Regions from separate parts of the Homo sapiens genome. Here region 2 is linked to region 1. Evidence: fine-mapped expression QTL. Tissue or cell type: nasal epithelium. Region 1 holds a variant in brackets; the other region holds the start of a gene. All regions are shown on one strand. Distances are from middle to middle.

What was found. PIP is the estimated chance that this variant, and not a neighbour inherited with it, causes the effect.
Region 2: it holds the start of DYNLT5, and the variant in region 1 is fine-mapped to the expression of DYNLT5 in nasal epithelium (TOPMed, PIP above 0.99). The same link has a PIP of 0.9 or more in skeletal muscle and unexposed skin.

What each region holds. Positions count from the first base shown.
Region 1 is chr1:66,771,430-66,775,676 of GRCh38, forward strand. The region is part of intron 3 of DYNLT5 (dynein light chain Tctex-type family member 5); the gene reads left to right. Among named protein-coding and RNA genes, the nearest start is that of DYNLT5, 21 kb to the left of the region's middle. The variant T/C (reference allele first, on the strand shown) is at 2,350.
Region 2 is chr1:66,749,818-66,754,064 of GRCh38, forward strand. It overlaps DYNLT5 (dynein light chain Tctex-type family member 5), which reads left to right and starts at 2,642. Exons shown (of 5, transcript NM_152665.3): 1 at 2,642-2,767. It overlaps SGIP1 (SH3GL interacting endocytic adaptor 1), which reads left to right. Exons shown (of 25, transcript NM_032291.4): 25 at 1-1,322.

The DNA.
Region 1 (4,247 bases):
TAGATAGAGCAGTGACTGATTCTAGGATGGCATATAACCATGGTGAATCCAATCAAAGACTTTGAGATTAAATTCAGAAAATGTTGTTTGGCCTGTTGCAGAAGAACATAAAGCCCTGAAACTTGAAGGAATGTAGGGGCTCTGGCAGGATCTGCCACCTTGCCCTGACTTGAAACTGAGAGAAAACAACAGAATCCTGGTGTCATCATTTGAGTCCTAAATCCAATTGGCTACCCTTTAACTTTTCAGTTAGGCAAGCTAAGTTTGGGTCAGGTTTTCCCTCACTTGCAACTAAAAGTTCTTAGCCATGGGGTGTCTATGACTTTGAACTGTGCATGCTGGAAGGGTTTGAATCAGATTTGAACAAGACAGGGCCAGTGAAATGTGAATCTCTGTGTTTCTACATAAGGATATTTTTTGCAACTTGTTTTCTCAAATAAAGCATCTTATCAGTTTTAGAAGTACTGAGTATGAACCACATTAGAAAAGTAATTTTAGAAAAAGCTTAGTATAGATGAAATATACCTGTATTTTCCTACAATAGTCTATGTGAATTTTTTAATAATTAAAATATTTTATGCTTGACAATTCCCTTTTTATAGCATTCAACCAGCCATTTTATTAATACTTAATCAAAACTGTGTTTCCACTTCTACTTGTTTCTGGGTTTATTTCACATATGAAAGGTATTTTGTGAGTGTATTAGTCCGTTTTTGCATTGCTATAAAGAAATACCTGAGACTGTAATTTATAAAGAAAACAGGTTTATTTGGCTCATGGTTCTAGAGACTATACAGGAAACGTGGTGCCAACATCTGCTTCTGGTAAGACCTCAGTAAGCTTTTAGGCATGGCAGAAGGGAAGGAGAGTTGGCATGTCACATGGCAAGAGAGGGAACAAGAGAGGTGCCAGGCTGTTTTAAACACCCAGCTCTCATGTGAACTAATAGAGGAAGAACTATAGAGCAAGAACTCAGTAATTACCGCTGGGACAGCACCAAGCCATTCATGAGGGATCCACCTTCCTGGCCCCAACACCTCCCACCAGGCCCCACCTCCAACACTGGGGATCACATTTCAATATGAGATTTGAAGGGGACAAATATCCAAACTATATCAGTGGGACTTTGGTAAATAGTTTATCATATCTTTACAATGTAATACTGGCCAGAAAAGTAGAGGGAAATATCAGCCAATCACCAGCACTATTATGTTTAATTAATTTTTCATTCCATTCAATAATGTTTGCCTCATCTAAACACATCTTAAATGAGAGCATTTACATAAATAATTACAGCTACAAAAAATGAGATGAAACATGAGTATCATTCATGAGAGGAGAAAAGGGAATAGAAAAGGAAAGTGTGTTTCTTTTAATAAAATACCATTTATATATTTCTCATTAATTACTAAAACAAATATAAAAGAAAATGCAGGCTGTGGCATCTGTCGTATCTGAATTTGAATACTAATTTTGCTAATTCCTTGAGCAAGGTATTTAGCATCATTGAATCTCAGTGTCTTCACTTGTAAATAGGGATAATAGTCTATACATCACATGGATGCTATGAGACTCAAATGATGTTATATGTTTAAATCTCTCCATTCATCATGTTACTACTCCTGAAAGTGACTGACTCAAGGACCTTACTATAGATCACTAAGAATAAAAGCCTTCCATGATATTCATTGTAACTTCATATTAATTATGGAATAAGTTTTCCACAGGACTTTTTCTGGAACTGAGTATAGTGGCACCTGGTTGTTTGCAAACATGGACTGCGAGCACCGAGCCAAACTAGATTGGCGGCCATCTTTGCTACCACATCAAGACAGCCTGCCTTGAGAATGAAGCCAGCACAGTAGAAAGTAGATCCAAAATATTGAGAGAGAAAGAGAGAGATTATTTGAGTTCAGCTTCCATGAAGTGCTCAGGCCCTGTCTCTATGTCAGGTTTTCTTAGAGCCTGTCAATCTCTCAGCATTGATTTTACACCACCACATGGGGTCCTTCCTAATCCCACAGGCCTCACTGTCTCCAGACTTACGTCCTCTTTCATCTTGCTGCCTTCTCAGCAAGGTAAATCCCCAATTCTTCCTTCAGCATGCAATAACTACAATAACAGCAATAACACTAATAAGATCACATATCTAAGGAGTGTTTTATTGTGTGACAAGCACTGTTCTAAACATATTCAATTTATTGTCTCATTTAATTCTAACAAAAAAAAATGTAGTAATTATTATTATTACCCCAATGTGGGGTAGTGGAGGCCCACATACATTAAGTAAACTTATCTTTATCTACTTTTTAAGGACAAGTTTTGTTTGTTTTTAAAATTTTTTTTGTC[T/C]TGATCCTTCAGGTCTTTGCCTTTTGATTTCTAAAACACGTTTTTTCTCCTAAGGAAAAAAAAAATCTCGAGAAAGAAGAAAAGCTTTGCCATTCACATCAGTTTACTCTGAAACTAGTTTTAGGAGCTTATTTCAGAAGTCAGAAACTGAACATTGATGGATGATTCTGGATGTTTAGGGGAAAGGTAACAAAGAAGTAAGAAAAGAATACTTCATTACCATATTTCAAAGTATTTTCAAAACAGGATCTGGTTAATGACTTTTTTTTTAATCTAAGCGAAGTATGGAAAGGACATTGGTAGCACTGTACAACGGGAACTACTGGAAACAGACTCAAGTGCCACCAGGACCCTCTTTCCAGCACTAACCTATGTGCACTTTCTTCTCTTTTGGTGGCCTGGCCTCCTTACCACCATGAAAAACATGTCCTCCAGCAGGTCCTCAGAGTCACATGGTAACTTTTGCCACCAGAAAGAGGCTGACTCTTTTTTCCTACTTGCAGTTTAAAATAAAAATTCCAAAAAAAGACTCTCATTGTCCTGGCCTAGAGCATTGTCACCCTGGGTTAATCAACCATGCCCTAGGCTTGGGTTCGCAGGAGATGATGGGGAGATCTTTAAGAACCACTTTCTAGATTCAATCTCCACCCCCACCCTTCCACGATTTAAGTGGAATTCAACAATTTCTATATTATCATCAAAATAAAAATAACGATTTATAGAACCTCAAGAGGCTCACCTAACTGAACTGCAGTCAGAGGCTGTAACCTTCTGGTTAAGTTCAGCCAGTGGGAAACCTCAGCTGAGAGGCAGAGGGAGTGAGAAGTGTGAGGTGGAGCTGTTTATTTCCCTGGCTCCTGCCTGTGAGTTCATCACAGCCTGGTTACATTCTTCAACCAAAGGACAGAAACTGCTCCCAAGGGAGCCCTCTCCACATGACCCTTCTGGGATCTATTAAAAGCTCTTCCTCTATTCCCCAATCTTGGGGTGGGAGGGGTGGGCTGACAACCTTACTTTCACTGGCTGAGGGGTGCTGCACTATCCCTTGTGATTTTCTACAGCCCACTCAGAACTTCCTCCTGGAATTATTTTAACTATAGGGTGCCATATGTTTCATTTGACCCTGACAGATACAGTCATCACAAACAAACACTTATTACTAGATATTGACATATATTAAAAGAGAATTGAATAGAATTCTTGATCTCATTCCTTCATCTTTATCAATTCAACAAATAATGACTGGGCTTCTGTATGCCAGGCCCTGGGCACATGTTCATGTCATGCAATGACATTAGTATATGACCAAAGTGATGATATGGCTAATATTCCTGGGATGCAGGAGGAAGAAGATTCATTTGAAGCTTCTCCTCTGAACGTGGATGAAATGTGGTCGAGAATATAAGCTCTAGCATCAGATAAACCTGGGTGTGCACCCCAGCTCTGCCTCTCTGTGTGATTCTGGGCAGGTTACTCAATGTATATAAATCTCTGTTTCCCCACCTGCCAAATGGAGATAACAGTGAGATTCACCTCAGAGATCTATTGGAAGACTATATAAGGTAATATGAAGTGCTTATCGCACTGCCTGACATGTAGCAACGGCTTAATAAAAAGTATTCATTATTATATATGTATACAATATACAGTCATATATCATATATAATGATTATCTATAAAATTTAATTCTATTTAAATTCAGAAATCATACATTAAAAATTTCTTATGCCTTTAGCATTGTATTAGACTCTGAGGAGGATAAAATCCGAGCTTGCTTACCATTTCACTGGAAACGCAGGTATGCTTTAGCCAATATCAAGTGGATTAGGAGCCAGGATGGCAGTGGGGACCCAGTGCATGGAAAGGAGGGACATTTTTACCTGAGAGGAGGTAGAGTG
Region 2 (4,247 bases), 22 kb before region 1:
TACAACAAGTAACTATCACAAGAACCACTGTCCCAAGATCCAAAGTCAGATTTTTTTCCCTTTTCAAGTTGCTAGAATGATAATTCATATAGCTGTGTTGATTTTTCAGGTCAGAATTTAGTTCTTGCTTTGTTAAATGGACATACATGAAAGAGATTGGCTCCTATCTAATTCATATTCTCTCTCTCTCTCTCTCTCTTTCTCTGTGTGTGTGTGGGGGTGTGTGTGTGTGTGTGTGTGTGTGTGTGTGTCTCTTTCCTCTCTGTCTAAGGGGAATTGGAAAATTGCTGCTGAATAATTTTTCTTGAAAAAGCCAAGTGTTGATATGATGATATATTAATCTTATCTATGAACAGAGCTTCACCACAGGCCAAGCAGTAATGTATACAGCTGGCTTTTTAAGCTGTTTGAACACTATTGTTTTCGATTAAAAAGAGTTTTTGTTTGTTTTTCACTTGTATAGTAAAAGATCATATGAATTAAATACTCGGATATTAATTTTCATTCTTACTAAGTGGCCATGTAAGGCATTGATTTTTTTTAAACTTGAACAATGCAAGAATCTAGGAATCTCAGAAAGATTTTGCTGTGTTTCTATAGGTAATGAAATCCTGTCAATTAAGGAAAATGCTGTGTGTAATTTGATTTGGTGGTAGCCTTTATTTAGAGCTCTCTTTGATCTATGTAGCAAAAATACACTAAATTTCTTTTTAATCTTGTACTAAGTACATAATTTCACAAAAATACCTTGGGCATAAAATACTTACAAAACTGTGAATTAAAATACTCAAGATACTTTCAAAATTTAGTCAAAATGTTGATTCCCAGCCTTTTTCCTACACGTCTATTTCAAAAGAGTATACTTTTTTCTGACAGCCATTACTGCTTAGTCTGTAATGAAAGCTTTACTGCTTCTATGCTGTGCTCAAGAGAAAACCAACAACGGAAGCGAAGACTTACTTGCTCCTTCACAGAATTGCAGCAAAGCTCTCTGCTGGGCAATGGTGACAGGAAAGTGTGTAATTGACTTGTTGAAGATAATCATGAGACCATCTTAACATTACTTGCCTTATAAGTTAGAAATAGTATGGATATCACTCTTTGTAAATAATAATTTTTGTAAATGTTTTTTGTTCATAATTTTCCCAATCACCTATTTCACAAAATCCTGAATATGCAATTATTTATTATGACACGTTACTGCAACTAGGGCTCCCATTCCAGAACAAAGTTTAATTCTATATGTAAGTTGTTACTGAAATGTGATTTCTTTTTCTGGAAAATAAATGAAAAATATGAAAATAAATTGAATTGTGAATATCTTTTGCTGTCAGCCTCTTAAAATTTTACCCGCATTTCTGGAAAACTTCATTCCATGTTTAGGGTAGGGATGGTGGGCCAAAGGTCTGTCAAAGGTCAAGGGTTAAGAGTTAGACAAATTTCAGCTCTGTGATTTAAATATCGACTTGAGCATGTTACTCAACGATTCTACATTTCCTTATCTTAAAAAAAAATAGAGTAATGTCCCCTATGTCATAGTCACTGAACAAATTCAATGAGATAATGTTTATTCATCACCTAGCAGTTCCTATCTAGTCCATAGTAGATATTCAATCAACAATCCTTTCCTGTTCTTATCTTTCTGTGAGTAGAGATTGGGATGGGCAAAAATATCTATTTCTCTTCTTCCAACACTATCCTAACACTGTGCTCCACCGGAATCCCAATGTATTACTGTCAGCTAATGCTAATTCCAGCAGGACACTCATCAAGAGCCATGCCCTTGGCTAGATGCTTGGAGGCATCTTGTTTCTGCTTCCAATGATTGCCCACTACAGGAGGGTCCCTATAGTGTTTATTTTGTTTGCTTTTGGTTTGGGGAGGCCCAAACCAGGCTTAGGCTGGGGATAGTCGCTGAAGAAGAGGAAAAGCCCATTCATACCAGCAGGTAGGTCCTCAACCCCAAACAGCCTCATTTCAAAGCTTCTTAGACATTAACAGGCTCAGAAGAGTCTTGTTAAGGAAAGCGAAGGAACCCAGCCCGGTTTGTAACACATTGGAGTTAAGACCATGAGTTTCAGGGGCCTTGGGCATATTATTTAACATTTTAGAATCTCAATTTTCCAAATCCTTTAAAGGGAAAACATTCCTTTCTTGACAGAGTTATTGGGACGACTAAATCCCAATGTTTGTCGGTATCTGGGGTATCTGGCCAATGTAAGTGCTCATTTACCTCCACATTCCACCGCCTGTGCCTTGGAGGGGGAACGTGCGAAGCAGCGTTAGGAGCCGGGAAAAGGGCAGGGCTACTTTACTTTGTCTTTGCGCTTCGGATTTCCTGTGCTAGGAAACCGCAGCACTTCCCACTCCTGCCCCTGATGTCTGCGGGAAAAGGAACTTGATGAGGGGCCCTAGGGGTGCAAATGTCTTTAGTCCCAAATGTCTTCCTCGCTACACAATGAACCAGTTCCCCTCCAGCTCGCCGCCAACCCAGGACGCAGCCCGGCTCAGAGTGACCCCCAGTGGGCAGTGAAGATGAGATCCTCTACATCCTTAGGGCAGCTCAGAGGGCCACTCAGCGGCCAAGTCCGGCCGGGGAGGGCCGAGGGCTCTGTTTGAGGTCACCCTGGAGACCGGCCTCAGAGTCCAGGGAGAGTGCGCGGGCGGCCGCCGGCTGAATGAAGCCTGGGACGCGGGAGCCGCGCCGCGCGCAGTGTCTGCAGTGCCGGAGGTCTGGGAGGCTCCGGGCGAAGCCTCCCTGCTGCAGGTAGGGTCGCCTCTCTCTGCAGCGCGTCTGGACCCCAAAGGAAGGATAGGGGGCAAGGGATCGGCCCTTTGTTGAGAAATGGCCCTACTTGGCCCCGATCTCTCCGCCACCTTATTCCTCCTCTCCCCAACACATAAGAAAAAATGATCCCAAATTTGGGAACTGAAAGTCGGTCCCAACGGTTCGTCCCCTGCCCCATTGCATGGCTGGGGGCTGGGCTTCAAGAGTGATGGCCAACGCAGAGCCGGCCAGCAAGGTCATCCCCTGACCCGGGGCGGTCTTCCTGTGGCTGGCCGCACCCATGAGGACCTCCAGGTCCCAACTCTGGCCTTTCTTGGGGAGGGGGCGGCCTGCAGGGCAGCTTTGGAAACAGCTGAGGCCGAGATGGGTCTATGTGGCTTTGCAGCAAAACCTGAATGACCCACCTAATCAGGCTGTGTGTCTTTCCACACTCATAAACACACTCACCTTCGTACACACGAACACAGACACACTTATACACACAGGCACCTGCACACACAGAGATGCACACTCACAGGTACACACTCAAGGACGCTCACACTCACGTGCACACACACACCACGCTGCCTGCCTCACCCACACACAGCACCTCTGCTCTGACATTGATGCCACTGGGTTTTAGGGTATGTTCTTGTGTGCCCTACCTACTCAACTGCCAGCTCCTTGAAGGCATGGATTCTCTTCTATTTTTATGCTTTGGTGTCTAGCACAGTATTTCCTTATCGGGGCTCTCACATTTATAGATTATGAAATAATTTAAATGAATACTTAAATTTGTAGGTAGACAATGAGGGCATTATTAGAGTTATAGTCCAAGTTCTGGGAAGTCCATTGCTACTACCAGCTTTTTAACAAGTATTAGTAGGAAGGAGGGAGTTTTCCAATAAATTATTTATTTAAAAGTTAAGTCCTATTTGCTCTTTACAAACTATGTAAATGTTGCTCGAGAAAACAAAACAAACAACAAAAAATCTTTGGGAAAGCAAGGTTAATTTTAATTTTTATTTATTTATTTATTTTCTAGCTCCCTACCCCTAATTTTATTTTTTAAAGTCATGGTGGGTCAGGCACAGTGGTTGATGCCTGTAATTCCAGCACTTTGGGAGGCCAAGGCAGGAGGATCACTTAAGGCCAGGAGATTAAGGCCAGCCTGGGCAACACAGAAAGATCTTGTCTCTACAAAAATGTTTAAAAATTAGCTAGGCATGGTGGTGCAGGCCTGTAGTCCTAGCTACTAGGGAGGCTGAGGTGGGTGGACCGCTTGAGCCCAGGAGTTTGAAGTTACGGTGAGCTATGATCATGCCACTGCACTCCAGCCTGGGTAACAAGAGCTAGATCCTGTCTCTAAAATAATAAAATAGGCCAGGTAGAGTGGCTCATGCCTGTAATCCCAGCACTTTGGGAGGCTGAAGCAGGATTGCTTGATCCCAGGAGTTCAAGACCAGCCTGGGCAACATAG